Linked DNA regions of Homo sapiens. The protein of the gene in region 1 purifies or fractionates together with the protein of each later gene. This does not show direct contact. Each region holds a gene or a part of one and is shown in the gene's direction. Other genes may lie near its edges.

What was found.
Region 2: the proteins of ICOSLG (region 1) and UPK3BL1 purify together in Homo sapiens (affinity purification with mass spectrometry; 2 studies listed by BioGRID and IntAct, with this or other methods). This does not show direct contact.
Region 3: the proteins of ICOSLG (region 1) and PREB purify together in Homo sapiens (affinity purification with mass spectrometry; 2 studies listed by BioGRID and IntAct, with this or other methods). This does not show direct contact.

Annotation. Positions count from the first base shown.
Region 1 is NC_000021.9:44,237,863-44,245,810, reverse strand, and holds the start of ICOSLG (ICOS ligand isoform a precursor), read left to right. Parts: upstream 1-4,867; 5' UTR 4,868-4,993; coding exon 4,994-5,007; intron 5,008-6,986; exon of another isoform or gene 6,987-7,213; coding exon of another isoform or gene 7,214-7,271; exon of another isoform or gene 7,272-7,322; coding exon 7,323-7,363; intron 7,364-7,948. UniProt on the Homo sapiens protein: Ligand for the T-cell-specific cell surface receptor ICOS. Acts as a costimulatory signal for T-cell proliferation and cytokine secretion. Also induces B-cell proliferation and differentiation into plasma cells.
Region 2 is NC_000007.14:102,639,775-102,646,919, reverse strand, and holds the start of UPK3BL1 (uroplakin-3b-like protein 1 precursor), read left to right. Parts: upstream 1-4,128; 5' UTR 4,129-4,178; coding exon 4,179-4,290; intron 4,291-6,146; coding exon 6,147-6,308; intron 6,309-6,505; coding exon 6,506-6,716; intron 6,717-7,145.
Region 3 is NC_000002.12:27,131,546-27,138,696, reverse strand, and holds the start of PREB (guanine nucleotide-exchange factor SEC12), read left to right. Parts: upstream 1-4,060; 5' UTR 4,061-4,275; coding exon 4,276-4,410; intron 4,411-4,975; coding exon 4,976-5,165; intron 5,166-5,359; coding exon 5,360-5,580; intron 5,581-5,773; coding exon 5,774-5,854; intron 5,855-5,969; coding exon 5,970-6,094; intron 6,095-6,293; coding exon 6,294-6,467; exon of another isoform or gene 6,468-6,493; intron 6,494-6,614; coding exon 6,615-6,687; intron 6,688-6,865; coding exon 6,866-7,025; intron 7,026-7,151. Other genes in the region: PRR30 (proline-rich protein 30), read left to right, coding at 368-1,606.

The DNA of each region.
Region 1 (7,948 bases):
ATCCACACACAAAAGTACAGGACCTCAGCCTTGGCAGGCAAAGGAGGGACTTGCTGAACAGACGGTGCGGAGGCCAAGGCCAGATCCACGCACAAAGGATGTCACTTGTGGGTCCTACCCCAGGTGGTATTGCTTGCAAAAAGCAGGGCTCCTCCTGGCCCTCTGCAGTCTGAGTCTCAGTGAGGATAAACCCAGCAGAAAGCTCTGCCTCAGGCTGTGCTCGAATCACAGGAAATGAATCTTACAGGGGAACTTTGGGGTCTGCACTGGGACTATTAGTGGTACGTAAAATGCTTTGTGGAAGAAAGGTTAAAATTGGACCCTTTGAAGGTTAAAAAGGTGTATCTGGAAGTAGAATAGAAGCCTTCACTTGAGTGAACATGACTGAACGCCTCTCCCATCTTGGGACAGTCCTGGATGCTTACGACACACATCTCACGTCCAGGGATGAATTTAGCAAGCTCTGTAATGACCCCGGGGTTCCTGAAGCCACAGAGGGAGCACAGGTGAGGGCATCCAAGTGCAAATGAGCCCTCTGGGGAGGCCTGCTTGAGCTGACACATAAATGGGGTTGAAGCCATTGTGAGCCCATGGGCACGGGCCAGGCAGGGTGGTGAGAGCTCCAGACAGGGCGGGCTGGGCTCAGGCTGTGTCCACCCAGGGAACCAGTGTCATGGGCCCAACATAACTCGTGGTCAGTTTCTGTGAGGGCTGCTTCAAAGCAGGGGCCCAAGGCTCTGTTAGGGGCTTTCTGCCACCCAAAATGCACTTTCCTTCTTTTGTTCTCTCCCCAACACTCAGAACTGTCCACACCACCTTGAGATTCTCTATGTATTTTATTTTAAATTTTTATTTTTTGAGACAGGGTCTAGCTAGTCCCCCAGGCTGGAGTGCAGTGGCACAACCATAGCTCACTGCAGCCTCCGTCTCCTGGGCTCAAGAGATCCTCCAGCCTCAGCCTCTGGAGTAGCTGGGACTACAGGTGCATGCTACCATGCGCTGCTAATTTTTAAAAATTATTTGTAGAGATGGGGTCTTGCTCTGTTGCCCAGGCTGGTCTCAAACTCCTGGGCTCAAGTGATCCTCCCACCTTGGCCTCCCTAAGTGTTGGAATTACAGGTGTGAGCCACTGTGCCCGACCTGCCAAGTATTTGAATTTTATACACAGGACCTGTATCATGATCCCATGCTCAGCTGAACCACCCTCCAAAGGATGCCCATGTCCCCATTCCCGGATCCTGTGAATGTTACCTCATGTGGCAAAGGAAGGACTTTGCTGACGGGATTAAATTGAGGTGGAAGGCCTCCCTGGATCATCCAGGTGGGTTCTACGTGTCATCCCAAAGGTCCTCATAAGAGAGGGGCAAAGTGAGGCTTGACCACACAGAGAAGCCACATGGCCACTGAGGCGGCTGCTGGAGCTAAGCACAGGGATGCCTGGGCCACCCAGAGCTGGGAGAGGCAGGTAGGATACTCCCCTAGCGCCTCCACCAGGCAGGCTTCCGCTCTCCAGGGCTGAGAGAGAATAGACTGCTGTTGTTTTGAGCCAGCAAGCGTGAGGTCGTTAGTTCCAGCGCCCACAGGAAACGAACATACAGTCATGCACCACATAACCTTCGGTCAACAAGCAATGCCACAGTGCTCCCATATCACAGCGCGGTATTTTTACTGCACCTGTTCTATGTTTAGATGGCTTTAGATACACAAATACCAGTGAGTCACAGCTGCCTACGCTATTCAGCACAGTCACCTGCCGCGTAGGCTCGTGGCCCTGGAGCAGCAGGCTGTGACACACAGCCTCGGCGTGTAGCAGGCTGTGCCACCAGGGCCAGTGTGTGCACTCTGTGTTCACACAAGGACAAAATCACCTAAGGACGCATTTCTCAGAAGGAATGTATCCTTTTCGTTAAACAATGTATGACTGTTCCCCGAAGAGAAAAGATCTTCCTTGGACCAGAAGTTGAGCTCTCAGCATCAGCGGACGCCCATGCTGTCAAACGCAGGTTGCTGTGCCAGACCCCAAAAGGACCCGGGCCTGGAGGTGCATCAAGGTGGAGATCAGAAGACCCCCACGCCCTCGAAACGGCAGAGCAGGGCGGCCTGGGGCTAGGGGCATCAGGCAGCTGCTTCCTGCTTAAGCACTACGACTCGCACCCAGAGCCTCGAACTCCAGGCTGCACAAATACGATTCCTGCTTGGTTCCCAGTTGGCCCTGGACGCTGCCAAGGGGCCCTCTCTCCACACCCCTAGAACAAAAGCCTATCCTGCCGGCCCAAGAAACAGTCACGGTTGAGGGGGAAAACGAAAACCTTCCTTTGACTACAGGAAACTTCCCAAAGGTTTCCCTGTTTCTTCATCTAAACCCATCTAAGTGTTGTGACACATGTGCCGGTGTGCTGTGTGCGTTCACTTACAACAGCCCCATTCATGTATATGTCACACGTCAGGGGATGCAGGCACCAAGGGGCTAAGGAACTTTCTGGGGTCACACAGCTCCGGAGTTGGGATCTGAACCAGCCACCGCTTACCGTGGTCTCCGAGGTTCCTGGGCTGGTCCTGGCACCCTCCCCCGCGGCCGCCTCGGCCTGCCTCAGTGTCCCCTTCTGGCCCAGCTGCCTTCCTGCCCCTGCCTGGCTGTGGCCTCCACGCGGCGTCCCCTCTCTCGGGGGGGCGGGGGGGGGGCTGCCCGCAGCACTTGGCTTGCTGGGGTCTCCGGCGTCTGCCCGGGAAGCAGAGCCTGGACCTGCCCCCTCGGCCACAGCACGGCGGGCCCTGCGGTGTCGGCCCCTCTCCCACCGCCCCCGGGCGGCACTGGGGGGCTGCGGGGTCCGGACGCACCGACAGGGCACCTTCCCTTCGCCGCCGCGGATGACCGGCCGCGCTCTTGGGAGGCCTTAATTTGGGAGGCTCTGCTCCCCCAGGACCCATTCCCCATCCTCCCAAAGCCCCCACGCGGTATCCGGGGGCCGTCCCCCTCTCCGCAGTCCCGCGGGTGGAGGGGATTCAGGTGCGCCCGGCCCTGGGGGTGGAGCGCTCGGCCCGGCGTCAGCTCATCGGCGCGGCGCAGCCCCGGACCTCAGCCGCAGGCCCAGAGGCGCGCGGTTCCCGGCCGGTCAATCAGGGAGGGCCTCCGGGAGGAGGTGGCGCTGCCCGCAGCCCGCCCGGCTCACCTGCGCCCTCCTCACCTGCGCCCTCCTCACCTGCGGGGCCATGCGGTCCCTTACCAGCAGCCGCCCGCCCCGGGGCGAGGAACCTCAGCCCCCAACATCGCCACCCCTCCAGCCTCGCCGGTCCTAGCCGGCGTCCCTGGGCGTGTCCCGGGAAGCGCACGTCCACGCTGGCGCTGGACCGGGTTTTCTGACTCCAGGGACGGGACTCGTCCTAAAGAGTCCGGCTCAGATGCGGTTACGCGCCTCACCTCACCCGGGTGCGGACCGCCAGTGCCTCCGCCCTGCACTCCGCGGGCCCTGCCCAGCTCTTCCCGCCGGAGGGCAGGTGGCCCCCGCCCCGCCCCTGCCAGGCGCGCGATTTTAAATCCCCCCAACCCCCGTCTCTCAGCGTGGCCTGGGAGGGGGAAGCCGCCCGGCTTCAGGGCTTCCTGCGCCTTCGCCGCCGCCCTCCCTGCCCTTCCCCGCCGCCGTCCCCCCTATCCCCCCAGCCCGTCTCTTCCGCCTTCTTATTTTGTGCCTGGGCTCTCTGCTCCGCAAAAATGTTGACTTCCCACGGGCAGAGGTTTCAGAATTTTTTTAAAGCTTTTGTCCACGGCGTTCTCTACATCTTGGTTGAAGGAATGGCAGCCTGCGGGGTGCCGTCTGGGGCCCCCGTCTCCCTGCGCTTCTCGCCTCCTCCATGCGCAGGAGGCGGTGGGGATCCGAGCCTCAGCCCAGAGGCGGGGGCTCCGGGAGGAGGGTGCCCCGCTGCCCTGTCTAGCAGCCTCACCCAGGCCCTTCCGGAGGTGCCTCTGCAGAAAGGGAGTCACGTCCCCCCTGGGCCTCACCTGGCTTGCAGGGATCAGGGAGGGAGGGCGGGGTGGGCTGGGTGCGGTGGGGAAGGAGCAGGGACTCTGGGTCCCACCCTCGGTTGCGTGGTGCAGCCTTTCCCAAACCAGCTGCCCCAGACTCCAGGCCAGACGCCACTGCCAAGGCTGACGAGCCCAGAGCCGCAAGCCTGCCTCGGTTTCTCGGCGGGGGATCCTCAGAGCCAGTGTTAAGCAAAGAGGCTGCGCCAGCGCCCTTCACACCCCTAGAAGGCTAGGGGAGCAAGGCTAGGTGGGGGCGGGCTGGGGCTGGCCCAGAGGGTAGAGCCCGCCCACTTTCCCTCCCTCCTTCCATTCATGCATGCGTTCATTCAGTCATTCATTCCTCAGCAGTCGCTGAGCTCACTCGCCTTAAGTCCTGGAGATCATCGGAGCGCAGCCGGCCAGGGGCCTGGCGCTCTCCCAGCCTTGGGGCCTGGGTCCCCGGACTCCTGCTCGGGGAGGGCCGCAGGACCGGCGCATTGTGCGCGGCGCGGGGAACGGCCCTTGCCTCCCACGGTGCCCTCCCTCGCTGCGCCGGCACCCGCAGCACCCCTGGCCACCTTCCTGCCGGGTACCCCCCACCCCTGCGCTTCCCAGGGCACCTACGGCGCCCAGGTCCGCGTCCAGGCGGACAGGCCGACCTGCCTCTGTCCCGCCTCCGGCCGACGGGCACACGCCTGGGCAGAGCCGAACTTTCCGGAGCCGCCGCGCAGCGCCCCGCCTCCTGTCCCGGGGCGGTCTCGGTCGCCAGAGGAGCCAGGCCGGGGGCGGGGCGGGGACGGGGCGGGGACACGGCTGCCTCCAGCACACCGCGCGCTGGGCGCTCAGAGCCTCGGGCGCGGCGGGAGCGCAGTTAGAGCCGATCTCCCGCGCCCCGAGGTTGCTCCTCTCCGAGGTCTCCCGCGGCCCAAGTTCTCCGCGCCCCGAGGTCTCCGCGCCCCGAGGTCTCCGCGGCCCGAGGTCTCCGCCCGCACCATGCGGCTGGGCAGGTGAGCCGGGGAAGGAGCGGAGGCGCCGCGGTCAGGGGCGGGGTGGCTCGGCCCGCGCGTCCCCAGCTCGGCTCGGACGCGGGGCCTGCGGGGCTCGCCTGGAGGTGCCGGGCTGGCAGTGCGGGTCCGAGGAGCGGGCGGCGGAGGCGCCGGGGCGGCCGGCGGGGCGTGGACGGCAGTGGGCGGCGGGGCCTGGCACCGGGACCCATGGCAGGACGCACAGCCGTGCGGGGGCGGGCTCGGGGGCGGGGTCCCTGCCAGGGAAGGAGGACCGCGAACGCTGGAAGGAGGGAGGGAAGGCGGGCGCACCCTGCACGCCGGGGCACGGGCGCTGCCCCTTCCACTCCCTGGCACTGCTGATTTCCTAGAAGAAGGGAGAAGGAGGGAGGTGACCGGCCGAGCGCTCTCCAAGGCCAGCTGGTGCCCACGGTCTGCGGACACGCCCTCCCCCACACACGTGGGATTCCCCGCAGCCCGGCAGCCGATCCACACTGGGGAAGGCGGGGCTGCCTGAACCAGGAGTGACAGCTTCCTCCTGGATTTTTGCGAAAATATCCAAAATATACTCTTCGCAACCCACGTTGTAGGGTCCGCAGCCTGTGCTCCCCTGGGTGAACCTGTGAGGCCCCTGACCCCAGGGATGCCTCCCGCACAGCTCAGAGCTGGGCCACACCGGAGTCACACTCCCCAGGTCCCCTCCCCATTAGAAGTGTATGCAGTTATGATCCTGCCCTAGAGAGAAAGAATTTAAAGGTCCCGGAATGTCATAGCCCTCCCAAATGTCTTAGCCCTCCGCCACCCACACCTTCAGGTAGGCGGCCCTGTCCATGCTGGGTCTTGAGGCAAGCTCGGGGTGGGGGTAGGTTAGATGCAGGGGTGCTGAGGGTCCAAGGAAAGGACACAGAGGCCGCTGCTTAGGCAGCACCCAGGGAGGGGACAAGCCAGAAACAGCCTGGAGCAGGCACCCCCCACCCTGGCCCAGGAAGCCCCCAGATGTCCTGAGGAGGCCTCCATAGACAGGAGGGGCCTTGTGGGCTGGTGATGAATATGGGCACTGTGGGAGACAAATGGGGGCACAGAGGAGTTCTCACAGCTGTCGTTTAGATGGTGGCTCTGGGGAAATGCTTGAAGGGGCTAAGGGTGGAGGCAGGGGGCCTGCTGGAGGCCATCACAGCCATCTTGCCAGCCAGAATGGTGGCCCCAACAGGGGGAGTGGGAGAGAGAGGAAGGGCCGCCTGCAGACTTCAAGAGCCCCTGGTGGCCAGGGGCCGCCTTGGTGCATGTGTGCTCACTTGGCACAGACACACCTCCATGCAGACTCAGATGACAGCCATCGTGGGTGGGGCAGGGGTTTCTGTGGCTCCAGGGCTCAGGGACAGCCCACTGGGAGGTTCCCACAAGACCAACCTTTGACTTACAAAGCCCCCAAGCTTTCCCAGGCAGAGGCCACAGAGAAGAGGGATGAGCGTCTCCCAGACCTTGGAGGTGCAGGGACATCAGAGAAGGAGATGTCCCTGCTCCTGGGGCTCTTGCTTCATGGGGAGCTGGCCCCAGAAACTGATGGTTTGGGGGGCTGGGGTAAGCACTGCTACCAAAGTGGTCCCGGCCACTAAGGGCCCCCACGTGGGGAAGGCATCCTGGGGGCTGGCGGGAGGAGGTGGCGAGCCTGTGGCGTGCAGGGTGCAAAGGCTCCCAGACCCAAGATGGCAGGGGCATTGGAGTCACGAGGGGAATTTGCTGCCCGAGGCAGGGGCACCAGCTGCAGCAGGATCTGAAACAGGAGGAGCTCAGGTTTGGTTTCAAAATGATCCGCGTTCCGCACAGGGCTGTCCCGTCACTCACCTGACCCTGTCACGGGCACGCCTGATGTTCTCCGTCTCCCCAGCATTTTAAGTGACACTCCTACTATATGTGCCCTGAAAGCTTTTTTTTTTTTTTTTTTTTCTGATTTCCTACAACTTCTTGGCATCTGTCCCCAGGAAGGCTAGACCAGCCTCACTGGCGTCCCTCGCTCCCCTTCATCCTCACGCCAGCATCACTGTGTTTCTGGGGATTTGTTACCGCGAGAGCTAGAGAGTGGTGAGAGGCTGCCAGCCCCTCGGACTTGCTGTGCTGGGCAGGAGGGTGGTGGTCCTGGCCCCGGACCCCGAATTCCCATGGAGAACAGAGGCAGGCAGGCTCCTGGCTCTGCCTTCACATTTCTGTGATGGGCTTAACTACCTCCTGCTCATGGGAACCAGCCTGTTCCTGTTTGGAAGATACAGGTAACTCCCTGGTGGCCCCGCCTCACCTGCCTTTCTGGTTGTTTTTTCCAGTCCTGGACTGCTCTTCCTGCTCTTCAGCAGCCTTCGAGCTGGTAAGTTCAGGGGGTGCTTTGCCATGGGGCGCCCAGCTCAGAGATGGGCTCTCCGGCTGTGTGGACTGCTGGCCGCAGGGCACTGGGAGCAGCCTCACCAGGCTCCTTCTTGCTTCTCAAGTGGTCCTTTGGAGACAGTTGGACCCTAAACCTAGGTTGCTGCACAGGATAGAAGCGTTTCCTTAAAGGGAAACACTTCTGCAAACTCCGGAGTTCTTGTTTGACTCCGTCTTTGTTGCGGGCAGAATGCAGTTCCTCTGAGCCAGGGCTTCCTGGGTCCCCTGGTCTCCCTGTCCCAGGCAGCAGCCCTGCTGAGCCCTAAGAGCCACCAGCCTCTGGAAGAGCCAGGAATAAGGACGAAGCACCGCAGCACAAACCTGAAACCTTGCCAAGCCTTCCAGCCCAGAGGGCTTTGGGGGCAGGGGACACACACAGATTTTCCTGCAGGTGCCAGGTGCAGTGGCTCACTCCTGTAATCCCAGGACTTTGGGAGGCCAAGGCGGGTGGATCACCTGAGGTCAGGAGTTCGAGACCAGGCTGGCCAACATAGTGAAGCCCGATCTCTACTAAAAATACAAAAAATTA
Region 2 (7,145 bases), on another chromosome or scaffold:
CTTTCTTTTTCTTTCCTCCCTTCCTTTATCTCTCTCTCTCTCTTTCTCTCTTTCTTTTTGAGATGGAGTTTCACTCTCGCTGCCCAGGCTGGAGTACAATGGTGCGATCTCGGCTTATTATTATTCTCCATGTTGGTCAGGCTGGTCTTGAACTCCCAACCTCGGGTGATCCGCCTGCGTTGGCCTCCCAAAGTGCTGGTGTGAGCCACTGCACCCGGCTTAGGATGCATTTTTCAATATTTTAGTGTTTGAATAACGGGCTAACTTGAGAAAAAAATAATTTGAATCACACATCACACCAAAAATAAATTCTAGGTGGATTTTAACACTTTCAAAAATTATTATTAGTTTAGAGACAGGGTCTCACTCCGTCGCCTAGGCTGGAGTGCAGTGGTATGATCATGGTTCACTGCAACCTTAAACTCCTGGCCTCATATGATCCTCCGGCCTCAGCCTCTCAAAGTACTGGAACTACAAACATGCACCACCACGCCCAGCCTAGGTGGGTTTTTAAAATCCATTCAAGGGCGGGTGCAGTGGCTCACACCTGTAATCCCAGCATTTTGGGAAGCCAAGGTGGGAGGATCACTTGAGCCCAGGAGTTCGAGACCAGCCTGGGCAACATAGTGAGACCACATCTCTACAAAAAATTTAAAAATGAGCCAGGCATGGTGGTGCACACCTGTCGTCTCTGCTATTCAGGAGGCTGAGGCGGGATCATTGTTTGAGCCCAGGAGACAGATTGCAGTGAGCTATGATGGCACCACTGCATGGCAGCCTGGGTGACAAAGGGAGACTCAGTCTCAAAAAAAAAAAAAAAAAGGTGACAGGCTGGGTGCAGTGGCTCACACCTGTAATCCCAGCACTTTGGGAGGCCGAGGCAGGTGGATCACCTGAAGTCAGGAGTTTGAGACCAGCCTGGCCAACATGGTGAAACCCTGTCTTTACTAAAAATACTAAAGTTGGCCAGGCGTGGTGGCGTGTGCCCGTAATCTCAGCTACCTGGGAGGTTGAGACAGGAGAATCACTGGAACCCCAGAGGCAGAAGCTGCAGTGAGCTGAGATTGTGCCACTGCACTCCAGCCTGGGTGACAGACCGAGACTCCAACTCAAATTAATTAATTAAATTTTAAAAAAAAAGGCAAAGAGGGAGTCCTGCCTGGGTACAGGAGACCTGGGGTTGGGTCCCAGCCCTGCCGCTGACCTGCCCTGGGACTGCAGGAAGTTTCTTTCCCTGCTGGGCCCCAGGTTTCTTCTCATCCATATAATGAGATTAGTCATAACACCTGCCCTGCCCATCTCTGGGGACCCAAGGAGAGGATGAGTCGATGAGCAAGAACGTGTTTTCAAAAAGGGGAAACAAGCCCTTCCCACATTCTGATGTCTGCTTTCAACTGCCTTTTGAAAGGGAGTGAGAGAGGGAAAAATTGTATTATACAGGCCGGACATGGTGGCTCACACCTGGAATCCCAGAACTTCAGGAGGCTGAGGTGGGAGGATCACTTGAGCCCAGGAATTTGAGACCAGCCTGGGCAACACAGTAAGACTCTCTTTCTACAAAAAGTTAAAAAATTAGCTGGGCAGCCGGACACAGTGGCTCACGCCTGTAATTTCAGCACTTTGGGAGGCCGAGGCAGGCAGATCACATGAGGTCAGGGGTTCAAGACCAGCCTGGCCAACATGGCGAACCCCGTCTCTACCAAAAATACAAAAATTAACCAGGAGTGGTTGTGCACGCCAGTAATCCCAGCTACGCAGCAGGCTGAGGCAGGAGAATCACTTGAACCCAGGAGGTGGAGGTTGCAGTGAGCCGAGATCGTGCCATTGCACTCCAGCCTGAACGACAGTGAGACTCTGTCTCAAAACAAACAAACAAACAAACAAAAAATTAGCTGGGCATGGTGCCTTATACCTGCAGTCTCAGCTACTAGGGAGGCTGAAGTGGGAGGATCACTTGATCCTGGGAGGTCAAGGCTGCAGTGAGCTATGATCACACCACTGCACTCCAGCCTGGGCAACAGAGTGAGACCCGTCTCAAAAAATAATAATAATATAATAAATAAAAGAGACCCCAGAGAGCTTCCTTGACCCTTCCACCATATGAGGACACAGCTAGAAGGCACTCTCTACGAACCAAAAACAGACACCAACTCTTCCTAGTTTTTGTTTTTGTTCTTGTTCTTTTTTTTTTAAGATGGAGTCTCACTTTGTCACCCAGGCTGGAGTGCAGTGGTGTGATCTCGGCTCACTACGGCCTCCCCATCCTGGGTCCAAGCGATTCTTGTGCCTCAACCTCCCGAGTAGCTGGAATTACAGGCGCGTGCCACCACGACTGGCTAATTTTGTATCTTTAGTAGAGACGGGGTTTTTCCACATTGGTCAGGCTGGTCTCAAACTTCTGACCTCAGATGATCCGCCCACCTTGGCCACCCAAAGTGCTGGGATTACAGGTGTGAACCACTGCGCCCGGCCAGAAGTTTTTCTTGTGAGTTGAGGTGAACATCTGAATCCCCTCGGGGAACTGAGGTATGTCCCCTTCAGGGAATGGTCCCTCTTCATCCAAAAATGGGGCCCACAGGTGATAATCTGTTGGGTTTCCCAGAATGAAGACATCTGGCATAATTAGAGCGTGAAGGTCAGGCTGACGGGGGCTAGCACCCCGATCCAGGGGAGAGGTGGTCACAGGTCTCGCTCCACCTGCCCTGAGCCCCATCTCATCTTTTTTTTTTTTTTTTTTTTTTGAGGGGGAGTTTCACTCTTGTTGCCCAGGCTGGAATGCAGTGGTGCGATCTCGGCTCATTGCAACCTCTGCCTCCTGGGTTCAAGTGGTTCTCCTGCCTCAGCCTCCTGCGTAGCTGGAGTTACAAGAACAAGCCACCACGTCCAGCTAATTTTGTATTTTTAGTAGAGATGGGGTTTCGCCGTGTTGGCCAGGCTGGTCTCGAACTCCTGACCTCAGGTGATCCACCCACCTCGGCCTCTCAAAATGCTGGGATTACAGGCGTGAGCCACCATGCCTGGACTTCCATCTGGTAATTTTCTGTCTCGAGGAGGAACTACCCTGCCCTGACAGAGGCTGGGGATGAAGGAGGAAGAGACAGCCGGTCCCCTGGATAAAGAGGTGAGGGGGTGTGAAGTCTGGGAGCCCCCCTCCCAGGGCCAGGCTACAGGGGGACAGCAGGGCTATACCAGGAGTGCCACAGAGATGCATTTGGGTGTGATCTAATCCCCAGTCCTGCCCTGACCTCCTGGGTGCTCTTAGCCAAGCCCTCTTCCCTGTGTGTGCTAGAAAGTGAGGGTCACTCCCTTCCACACAAGGGAGTGAATTGAGGGTGGGGATCTGAGCTCTCTGAGCAGCAAAGCTGGACACAGGCCAAATTGCCAATCCTGAGTCCCTCTGTCATGTGGACCTGGGAAGCTTGTCCTCATCCTCCATCCTTCCCCAGGGTGGGGCCTGAGAATCTGAGAACCTTGAGCCTGGGAGGTCAAGGCCACAGTGAGCTATGATCGCACCACTGCACTCCAGCCTGGGCGAAAGAGTGAGACCCTGCCCCCCCCAAAAAAAAATAATAATAAATAAAAGAGACTCCAGGGAGTTTGCTTGAGCGGCACTCCCTATGAACCAAAAACAGACACCAACTCCTCCTAGGTTGGTTTTTTGTTTTTTGTTTTTTGTTTTTTTTTTTTGAGGCAGGGTCCCACTCTGTCATCCAGGCTGGAGTGCAGTGGTGCCATCTTGGCTCACTGCAGCCTCAACCTCCCAGGCTCGAGTGATCCTCCCACCTCAGGTCCTAAAGGAAGAGTCGCTACATTGGGGACTGTTTGGACAAGGAGATCCACGGGGTAGACTTAGCGGGATTGTCCCTGGGGCAGCCTGGATCCTGAGGCTGCCCCGCCTCCTTCCTCAGCCCCTCCCTGGTCAGGCGCTCCTGGTGGGTGGGGGGGGTAGTCCAGGCTTGTCTTGCAACTGTATGTTCTCTTCAGACCCCTCCCTGGCGATGCCAGATTCACTGGGCTGGCAGATTCTGCCCCCAAACCTGTCCAACCAGTTGTTTGAGAGGAGGGGGTAGCTGGGAGGGGCAGCAGGAGATGCCAGGAACAGCTTCCCCTAGCACAGCACAGACTACAGACAGGGGAGCCTCTGGGGCTGCAGACACTGCAGACGGACGGACAGACAGATGGACAACAGCTGGAGGCTTGGCCCGGCCATAGGGCTCTCTGCGGGACAGTCCCAGCTGCTAGTGTCGCTGTTGCTGCTACTGACCCGTGTCCAGCCTGGGACAGACGTGGGTGAGTAAGGGTGGGGATTGGCACAGGGGTACCCGCTGCATCTCAGGCTGCAGGACAAACCCAAGACCTCACTTTGTTTCCAAATTCTCACACATGGCTCCTGCCTCCTTCCTTTCCCTGAGGAGAGGTTTCCAGATGTCCAGGACAATGCATGTCCCCAGGAAGCTCTGGTAAGCCCAGCCTGGGCAACATAACAAGACCCCTTTTTTCAAAAAGATTTTTTTTTTTAAGATTTTTGTTTTTAATTAGCTGGGTGTGGTGGAGTGCACCTGTAATCCCAGCTACTTGGGAGACTGAGGCGGGAGGATGGCTTGAGCCCATGCAGTGAACTATGAATGCGCCACTGCACTCCAGCCTGGGCCAAACAGCAAGACCCTGTCTCAAAAAAGAAAAGAAAAGAAAAACTGGACAGGCTGAGAGATACAGTCCTACAATCTCTGCCCCCAACCCCAATCTCTGACTGCTCCGCTTCTCTTTTTCTTTTTCTTTTTCTTTTTTTTCTTTCTTTTTTTTTTTTTTTCGAGACAGAGTCTCCCACTGTCACCCAGGCTGGAGTACAGTGGCGCGATCTCAGCTCACCACAACCTCCGCCTCTCGGGTTCAAGCAATTCTCCTGCCTCAGCCTCCTGAGTAGCTGAGATTACAGCCGTGCGCCACTATGTCTGGCTAATTTTTGTATTTTTAGTAGAAACAGGGTTTCACCATATTGGCCAGTCTGGTCTCGAACTCCTGACCTCGTGATATGCCCGCCTTAGTCTCCCAAAGTGCTGGGATTACAGACGTGAGCCACCGCGCCCGGCCTCCACTTCTCTTTCTAAACATTACGTGCCTCCTGCACGCAGAGTGCCCTGGGCTTCAGAGATAGGACTGAGAGCTGTAAGAAAGGAATCGTGACAATCCTTCCCCAAGGAAGACTCTAGCCTGAACCTTTGGAGTTGAGTTGAATTCAACGTAAATGAATGAAGTTGAACTGAACTGAACTGAACAGGGGCAGCTGCTGGAGACTCACATAGAAACCCACTCCATCGTTCTGCTTCTCCTAGACCAGTATTTGGGGTTGGGGAGGTCTGAGCTCTCCAACCAGCAAGGCTGGACACAGGCCAAGTTGCCAATCCTGAGTCCCCTTTGGGGTACAGACCTGGGAAGCTTGTCCTCGTCCCCCACCCTTCCCCAGAGAGATGAGGTGGGAGTCTGAGAGGGGGACCTGGTCCTGAAGGCGAAGATGCCTCGGGGCCATGTTGGGAGGCGGCAGAGAACCAGGCAGGTTGAAGAGGACGTTCTAGACTCACTCGGAACCAAGCTCTGGCTCCAGAGCCCCCGGACCCTCTGGGCAGTCTGTGTCCCAGCCTGGGGTCTCAGCCAAGAGGACCTTCCTGTGCCATCCCCCCGACCCCTGCCAAGCCACGCATCCTCTCATCAAGCAAAACAACCTAGACCATGTGGGTGGAGCTGGAGGGACTTAAGTTGGAGGTCACTGGGCATGTCAGGAACAGAGTTCAGCCTAGGGTCAGGCTGCCCCCAAATTCCAGTTCCATCCCAACATGGCCCGGCCCAGGAGAACTGTGCCTACCGCCAGGGTGGGACCTCCCATGCCACCATTGTCCTAGACCTCCCACAGTGCCCACCCCCAGTAGGCTCCTAAGAGAGGGGCCAGGGGCTGGACTCAGGCCTCCCACCCATGCCCATGGGGCATAGAGTTGCCGGGAAAGCTTCCTGGTTCATACCGGACCTGACCTCCCAGGAAGTGCCCGTAACTTGGGGCTCCCATGTTAAGTCTGGATCTGGGCGGGGGGAGACCAGAGCTGTTGGGGCTTGGTTGCCCCATTTGGACTCTCCTCTCTGCCCTCCCCTTCCAGCTGCCCCAGAGCACATCAGCTATGTGCCCCAGCTCTCAAACGACACCTTGGCGGGGAGGCTCACCCTGTCCACCTTCACGCTGGAGCAGCCTCTAGGCCAGTTCAGCAGCCACAACATCTCTGACTTGGATACCATCTGGCTGGTGGTGGCCCTCAGCAACGGTGGGTGCTGCTGGGGCCAGGCTTCGGTTTTCCCTATGTGAAATGGGCCTGCGGGCCTAAGGGCAGTAGCGGGTGTGTTGCAGGGAGATGCAGGGAGCAGGTGCTGCAGGGGATGGGGCCGGGGAGGGCTGTCAGGCTTGGTAAGGTGAGGGTGGGATCCTGCTGTGTGACCTGTCTGACCATGGTGCCACCCTTAGCCACCCAGAGCTTCACGGCCCCACGGACAAACCAGGACATCCCTGCTCCTGCCAACTTCTCCCAGAGGGGCTACTATCTCACACTGAGGGCCAACCGGGTGCTGTACCAGACCAGAGGCCAGCTCCATGTCCTCCGCGTCGGCAATGATACCCACTGCCAACCAACAAAAATTGGCTGCAACCATCCCCTACCAGGACCCGGCCCCTACAGGTGAGCAGCTCTGCCAGGCCCTGGCTCCTGCCCGCATGCACCCAAGCCGGAGCCTGGGGCAGCTCCTACGAGGCTCACCAGGGCCCCAGCAGGATGCCTGGGTCCCCTGCTCCTGCTTGGCCAAAGGGAAGAGGAAGCAGCAGGCAGGGGCTAGGGAGGCCTTCATGAATTACATGAATTATCCTTCTTCTCTTTTTTTTTTTTTTCCTTTTCTTCTTCTTCTTTTTTTTTTTTTTTTTTGTTTTGTTTTTTGAGATGGAGTCTTGCTCTGTGACCCAGGCTGGAGTACAGTGGGGTGATCTCGGCTCACTGCAACCTGTGCCTCCCGGGTTCAAGCGATTCTCCAGCCTCAGCCTAACGAGTAGCTGGAATTACAGGCATCTGACACCACACCCGACTACTTTTTGTATTTTTAGTAGAGACAGGGTT
Region 3 (7,151 bases), on another chromosome or scaffold:
AGGTCCTATGGGCTTTGTCTTCCTCTCTGCCCCACCCAGATAATCGCTGCTGCCCCTCCACTCCCAAGATGCAGCTGTGATTCTCCATCCCCACACATCCCTCATCAATGGTTGACTGCAAAGAAGTGAGAAGCCAAGCTTAGATTCATGCTCATGCCTGAACACCCTGAGAGCCTGGTGCTGGAGGGCTGGGTATCCCCTTGGCCTGCCACCAGCACCTGCACCCACACCAGGCTGGAGCCACGCTCTGCGCACAGAAGGTGGCCTTGATTTCTCAGGCACAGCTGACCTCAGAGATACTGGTCCTGACTCTGCCAGGTCTCTTATCCCTAGTCTTGTTGCCCCAGTTCCTTCTGGATTCAAGGCGATGTTGCCTCAAAACAAGGACCAGGTGCTGCCACAGACCTCAGTGCTCCCTGGGCGCCCCACTTGGGGCTTCTCACAACTTGTGGACTCCTCTCCTCACAACCTACAGCCTCTCTCTCCCCATCAGGGCCTCCCTCCCTCTCAACCACCGTTCTCTTCCACTCAGTCCCGTCGTCCCTCCTCCCCTCCACCAGCATCCCCCTCTCCTGGCTTCCAATTCGGCTCTTGTGACTCAAATTCTGACTTTGCTCCACATCCCTATTCTCCCTCTCTCCCAAGTTCCCCTACTTTCTTTCACCAGAACTACCTCTCTCTCCCCCGTCCACGTGCATCCTCTCCCTCCAACCACTGGCTGTACCCCTCTCCCCCTCTGACCCCTTCCTTTTCTCCCTCCCAGCCTCAGAACTCCTCCCTTCCCCACTCACCTTGCCAGTCCCCTTCCCACCCCGAGGAACTGCATAGCTCCACACTCACTTCCCCAGGCCCCAGCCCACCTTCTCATAGGCTCCACTCTAACAGGCAGACATGGCGCTGGCATCAGTACAGGGACACTGGGTCCGGGTCCCCTGGAGTGGTGGAGAGATGCGTGCCAAGCGAGAAGGATCCTGCACAGTTCAGGGACCCAGGGGCCCTGGCCCAGGCCCTGGTGGTCCAGCTGGGGCACCGCCGCATCGCACACGACCTGCGGCTACTGCTTTTGCAGCACCTGTGGCTAGGCAGAACCGGCCAGGCCCCAGTCGTGGAGTATCCTATATGCCTGGTGTGCCTCCGGCCCCGCAGCCCCTCCTGCCCCCTCCCCAGGTACAGGACTGGACCCCGGCTGCTTGCTTTCCCTCAACTACTGCCCTGTGTGCAGGGCCAGGAATCTGGGCCACTCCGGATAGGCATCGGCTTCGGCCTCCGCCTGCCTCAGGGCCAGGCCAGGGCCTTGCATCTGCTGCCCGAGAAAAGGCCGAAGGAAGCAGGGCCTCAGGGCAAGGCTACTCAGGCCTGTGGGCATCAATTGCCAGCATCTCAGCCTCCAGCAGCTCAGGCCCGGGCCGACCCAGTCCCAGGCACACCCTCCCAGACCAGGAGCTTCAGGTCTGCAGGCCTTCAATCACCAAACTCCCCACGATGTTTCTCCGGGCCTCCACCTCGGGCACCAAAACAGGTCACTACCTCCCTGAAGCCCAGGCCTTGCCCTGGCCCAAAGAGGCCAGTTTCTCTGGAGCTCATTCTCCAAAAGTCATCAGTCTAGTTCCAGAGCCACGGAGGCCCCCTGGAACACCCCCTCCAAACCCAACCCTCCCAACCAGGCCCCAGATCTCGGGGAGTCCCCGAGACACCCTGAAGGGCTGGCTGGCCGGAGGTCAGGTGTGTTCTCCTGCTCTGAACCCTGGGAGCCCCTTGTGGAGTCTGCTGTCTCCAGGCTGAAGAGGACCAAGGGCACCAAGGCCCCATTCAGCCCTCCGTGTATCTAATAAAGTCTGACCCTGTGAAACTTGTGTTTGCGTCCTGCTGAGTCCACAGAATAGGTGGCTGTAACTATAGGGGTGCCAGTCCCTAACAAGACCCTTGGTGGCGGGGAGGGGGTGGTTCATGCCTATAATCCCAACACACTGGAAGGCTGAGGTAGGAGGATCACTTGAAGCCACGAGTTTGAGACCAGCCTGGGCAACATAGCAAGACCCTGTCTCTCCAAAAACAAAAATATAAAAAAATTAGCTGAGTATGGTGGCGCGTGCCTGTACTACCAGCTACTCAAGAGGCTAAAGTGGGAGGATCACTTGAGTCCAGGAGTTCAAGGTTGCAATGAGCTATATCATGCCATTGCACTCCAGCCTGGGTGACAGAGACCCTATCTCAAAAAAAAAAAAAAAAAAAAGAGGGCATGGTGTGGTTGCTCATGCCTATAATCCCAGCACTTTGGGAGGCCAAGGTGGGCATATCATTTAAGGTCAGGAGTTACGAGACCAGCCTGGCCAACATGGTGAAACTCCATCTCTACTAAAAATACAAAAATTAGCTGGGTGTGGTGGCGGGTGCCTGTAGTTCCAGCTACTCAGGAGGCTGAGGCAGGAGAATCACTTCAACCTGGGAGGTGGAGGGTGCAGTGAGCTGAGATCAGGCCACTGCACTCCAGACTGGGCAACAGAGCGAGACTCCGTCTCAAAAAATAAAAAAGACCCTGGAGGGTGGTGTCAAAGGAAACGGAGAGGCCAGAAAGAGCAGGTGCCATGTATCCAAGGAGGACAAGGGACCCACAAGGCCTGGGGACTTGAGATATGCAGAGAGCTTGGCCAGGCCCTTCACACATCTAATTCAACTCTGTGGGACAGATATTGGCATCCCCAAAGATGAAGCCACTGCGCTATTCCTCTGGGTGCACCTTAGGTTAATGAGAATGCAGGAGAGGGCGTCTCTTTGCAGGGAAGGACATCCCTTGTGCTCGCTCTCAGGAGTGCACAAAGGTCCTCATCAGATCAGAAACCCGAGGGAGAATGGAGTGTCAGGCGCAGAAGATACCTGCCCGGGAGCCAAACTGCCCCCTCTGAGGCCAGCAAAGCAGCTGGCCACCCACCAAGCCACCAGCCCAGGAGTGTGAAGCCTTGAGAAAGGGAATGGCAGACACCACCCCTGCCAAAAGTGGGCGATAGGCGTTAAGGATGACAGACGTGTCCTCATACGAGGAAGCAATGGATTCAGCATTTGAAGTCAGGTTTATTTTTAAGTTCATGCTGCCTCCGTTAAGAAGCAAGAGACTCCGGTGGTTTCTGGTGTGTGCCCTCGGGCAAATCACTTCCTCTCTGAGGTAAGATGCAAAGGCCTGTGCTCCTAGGAGTTGGCATATCACTCCTCAGATGGGAACAGTCCTTATTTGAGGATTTTATGTGTGTGAGAGACAGGGTCTAGCTCTGTTGCCCAGGGGCTGGAGTGCAGTGGTGACATCACTGGTGGTCCAGCGCAGCCTCGACCTCCCAGTCTCAAGTGATCCTCCCGCCTGAGCCTCCTGGGCACCTGGGCCCACAGGTGCCACGATGTTTGGCTAATTTTTAAATATTTCGTAGGGACGGATCCCCATGTTGCCCAGGCTGTCTCGAAAGCCTGGGCTCAAGCCATCCTCCTCTCTCGGACTTTCCGAAAGTGTTGGGATTACAGGAGGATTACAGGCATGAACCACCGTGCCTGGCAGAGGATTTTTTTTTTTTTGAGACGGAGTTTCACTCTTGTTGCTTGTTGCCCAGGCTGAAGAGCAATGGCAATGGCGCGATCTCGGCTCACTGCAACCTCTACTTCCCAGGTTCAAGTGATTCTCCTGCCTCAGGCTCCCGAGTAGCTGGGATTACAGGCGCACGCCACCACGCCCTTTGTATTTTTGGTAGAGACGGGGTTTCTCCATGTTGGTCAGGCTGGTCTCGAACTCCTGATCCGCCCGCCTAGGACTCACAAAGTGCTGGGATTACAGGCGCGAGTCGGATTTCTTTATTAAAGGTTGACCTTCATCAACCTCCATTGGCTCCACCTCCTCCGCCCGCGCCCCGCGCCCCGCACAAAAATGGCGAAGTCGGTGCTGGGCGACTCTGCCTCCGCGCCAGGGGTGGAGAACCGAAGCCCCGCCCCGGGAAACGCGGCCCCGCGGCCGGCTAGTGCTGACGCGTGTCGGCGCTCCTGCGCCTGCGCGGAGGGAGCCGCGAGACAGGTGCGCATGCGCAGTGCGCGTCTGCGAGACCGACTTGGACGGAGCCGAGCTGAGGCTCGGCTTCCTGCTGATGGTCAGGGTTTTGGCAACTCCCCGGTGTGAGAGGGGTAGGGAGTGCTCCCGGCGGCGACGGGGCCGAGTTCACCAGCCGCCGGGGCAGTAGTCGAAGGCCCGGCGCGGCATGTCCTGGGTGCCGCGGTGCGGGCAGTGAACGCGCGCCGGGCGGGATGGGCCGGCGCCGGGCGCCAGAGCTGTACCGGGCTCCGTTCCCGTTGTACGCGCTTCAGGTCGACCCCAGCACTGGGCTGCTCATCGCTGCGGGCGGAGGAGGCGCCGCCAAGACAGGCATAAAGAATGGCGTGGTGAGAGCGCAGGGCCACTGGGGCTGGGTCTTGCTGCGGGCTGGCGGCGATTCCAGGGTGGCCGGGGGGTCGCGGGGCGGGCCACACTCCAGCTTCGGGCCCTGCCCACTTCTGTTGGGAAGACCCGCTTGCCTGACGCCCAGGGGCGAATTTCAGTCGAGAACTCAGCGGGCGGAGGAGAGGCTTTTAAGGTAAAGTGAAAACTGCACACAGCTGCAGAGTCGCCAGGAACGCTTCAGCTCCGCCTCAGAGCAGCTCCAGGGGTCTTATACTGGCCTTTTCCGGGAGGTCTTGCCTGCCCTCTAGCAGCGGCGAGAGTGGTGCATTTGGGTTTAGGCTAAGTTCCTTCCCTCTCCTGAGCTTCACCCTGTTCTGTAAAATAGAGGTAATAATCCCAGTCCTGCTCACTGTGTAGATTTGTGAGGCCCAAATGAGAGAAAAAAGACTCGAGAAACCCTTGTGAACTAGAACGTGCAGAAAGCAAAGGGGTAAGACATCAGACTCTTCCCTAAACGTGCTCTCTGGGCACCCCTGAACTTGCTCATCCGGGTTCCCCCTCCCACAGCACTTTCTGCAGCTAGAGCTGATTAATGGGCGCTTGAGTGCCTCCTTGCTGCACTCCCATGACACAGAGACACGGGCCACCATGAACTTGGCACTGGCTGGTGACATCCTTGCTGCAGGGCAGGATGCCCACTGTCAGCTCCTGCGCTTCCAGGCACATCAACAGCAGGGCAACAAGGCAGAGAAGGCCGGTGAGGAGCTCCCTCTCTACCCCCTTGGGGAAAGGGTTGAACGAGTAAGGTCACTCTTGGTGTCTCTAAAGAAGTGGGTCTGGAAGTAGGGTTTTGGTAGCAAGCTAGAAGTTGTATGGGCACCTGCCATGGAGAGAGGGGCCAGTACTCCTTACTGTAGAAGCCTGGAACCTGGCCAAGTGTTTGTGTTACAGGTTCCAAGGAGCAGGGGCCTCGACAAAGGAAGGGAGCAGCCCCAGCAGAGAAGAAATGTGGAGCGGAAACCCAGCACGAGGGGCTAGAACTCAGGGTAGAGAATTTGCAGGCGGTGCAGACAGACTTTAGCTCCGATCCACTGCAGAAAGTTGTGTGCTTCAACCACGATAATACCCTGCTTGCCACTGGAGGAACAGATGGCTACGTCCGTGTCTGGAAGGTGTGGGTTTGCAGGGTTAGGGAGGGTGAATGTCAGTAGCAACAGGATCAAAATTGTGAGAAGTTGAACGTGGCATCTGGGAAACTTGTGAATGAAGCTTGCATTGAGGGGCCATTAGAAGGGGTGGCGTGGGCATCAGTCACAGTGTACTTGCTGGACACCTGAGTTAACCATGGTGGTTGTTTGGCTACAGGTGCCCAGCCTGGAGAAGGTTCTGGAGTTCAAAGCCCACGAAGGGGAGATTGAAGACCTGGCTTTAGGGCCTGATGGCAAGGTGAGGGGCTGGGGGTGGGAGGAGGATGGAGAAAGGAGAGAGGAGGTGCTTATGCTGCTTGCCCAGTAAGTGGATCCCCTAACTGTCCATCCTTGGAATCTTTATTCCTAACTAGTTGGTAACCGTGGGCCGGGACCTTAAGGCCTCTGTGTGGCAGAAGGATCAGCTGGTGACACAGCTGCACTGGCAAGAAAATGGACCCACCTTTTCCAGCACACCTTACCGCTACCAGGCCTGCAGGTGTGAAGACTTTGGGTGGTGGCTGAAAGAGGCATAGCCCAGCTGTGGTGGGGGAGAGGGAAAAGACTGGGGATGGGAGAGCTGGGGAGGAACTTGTTGAGTGTTACCCCAGGTCTGACCAGGGTGCAGGTGGTGCACAAACCTCTGAGGAGGGTTGGGCAGGCCCTAGGAGCTGAATAGCCCCTCATCCGGCCCCCAGGTTTGGGCAGGTTCCAGACCAGCCTGCTGGCCTGCGACTCTTCACAGTGCAAATTCCCCACAAGCGCCTGCGCCAGCCCCCTCCCTGCTACCTCACAGCCTGGGATGGCTCCAACTTCTTGCCCCTTCGGACCAAGTCCTGTGGCCATGAAGTCGTCTCCTGCCTCGATGTCAGGTGTGAGACATTGCTGCCTTGGCTAGGTAGGGGGTCCCTGAGGGAGCTTGGAAAGGAGTCCTGCCTGGGTCCCTACGGACCGGTATTGGGGTATGAGGGTTGCTGCACAAGCCTCCAGGACAATGAGCTCTTTATTGTTTGTTGCAGTGAATCCGGCACCTTCCTAGGCCTGGGCACAGTCACTGGCTCTGTTGCCATCTACATAGCTTTCTCTCTCCAGGTAATGGGTGGAGGTTGGCATGGCCCTGTGGGTGGACTGTAGGCCTGTCTCTACCCTGAGTTTGCAGGAAGGAGTCTGGCCCATCCTATCGAGGGAAATCCTGGGGGTGGGGAACATGCTTTCCAGAAAGAGAGTTCCCAGCTAGGCCTTTCCTCACTGGTATTCCTTCTGCCCACAGTGCCTCTACTACGTGAGGGAGGCCCATGGCATTGTGGTGACGGATGTGGCCTTTCTACCTGAGAAGGGTCGTGGTCCAGAGCTCCTTGGGTCCCATGAAACTGCCCTGTTCTCTGTGGCTGTGGACAGTCGTTGCCAGCTGCATCTGTTGCCCTCACGGCGTGAGTCATTGGGGCAGGGCAGGCAGGCACCACCCCACGTTTAATGACCAGAAACGTGCCCCCCGGAGGCTGGGCTCTTTGTGCCACTCCTCCTTTGAAGGGTTCTGGTTTTCAGGCTGGGAAGCC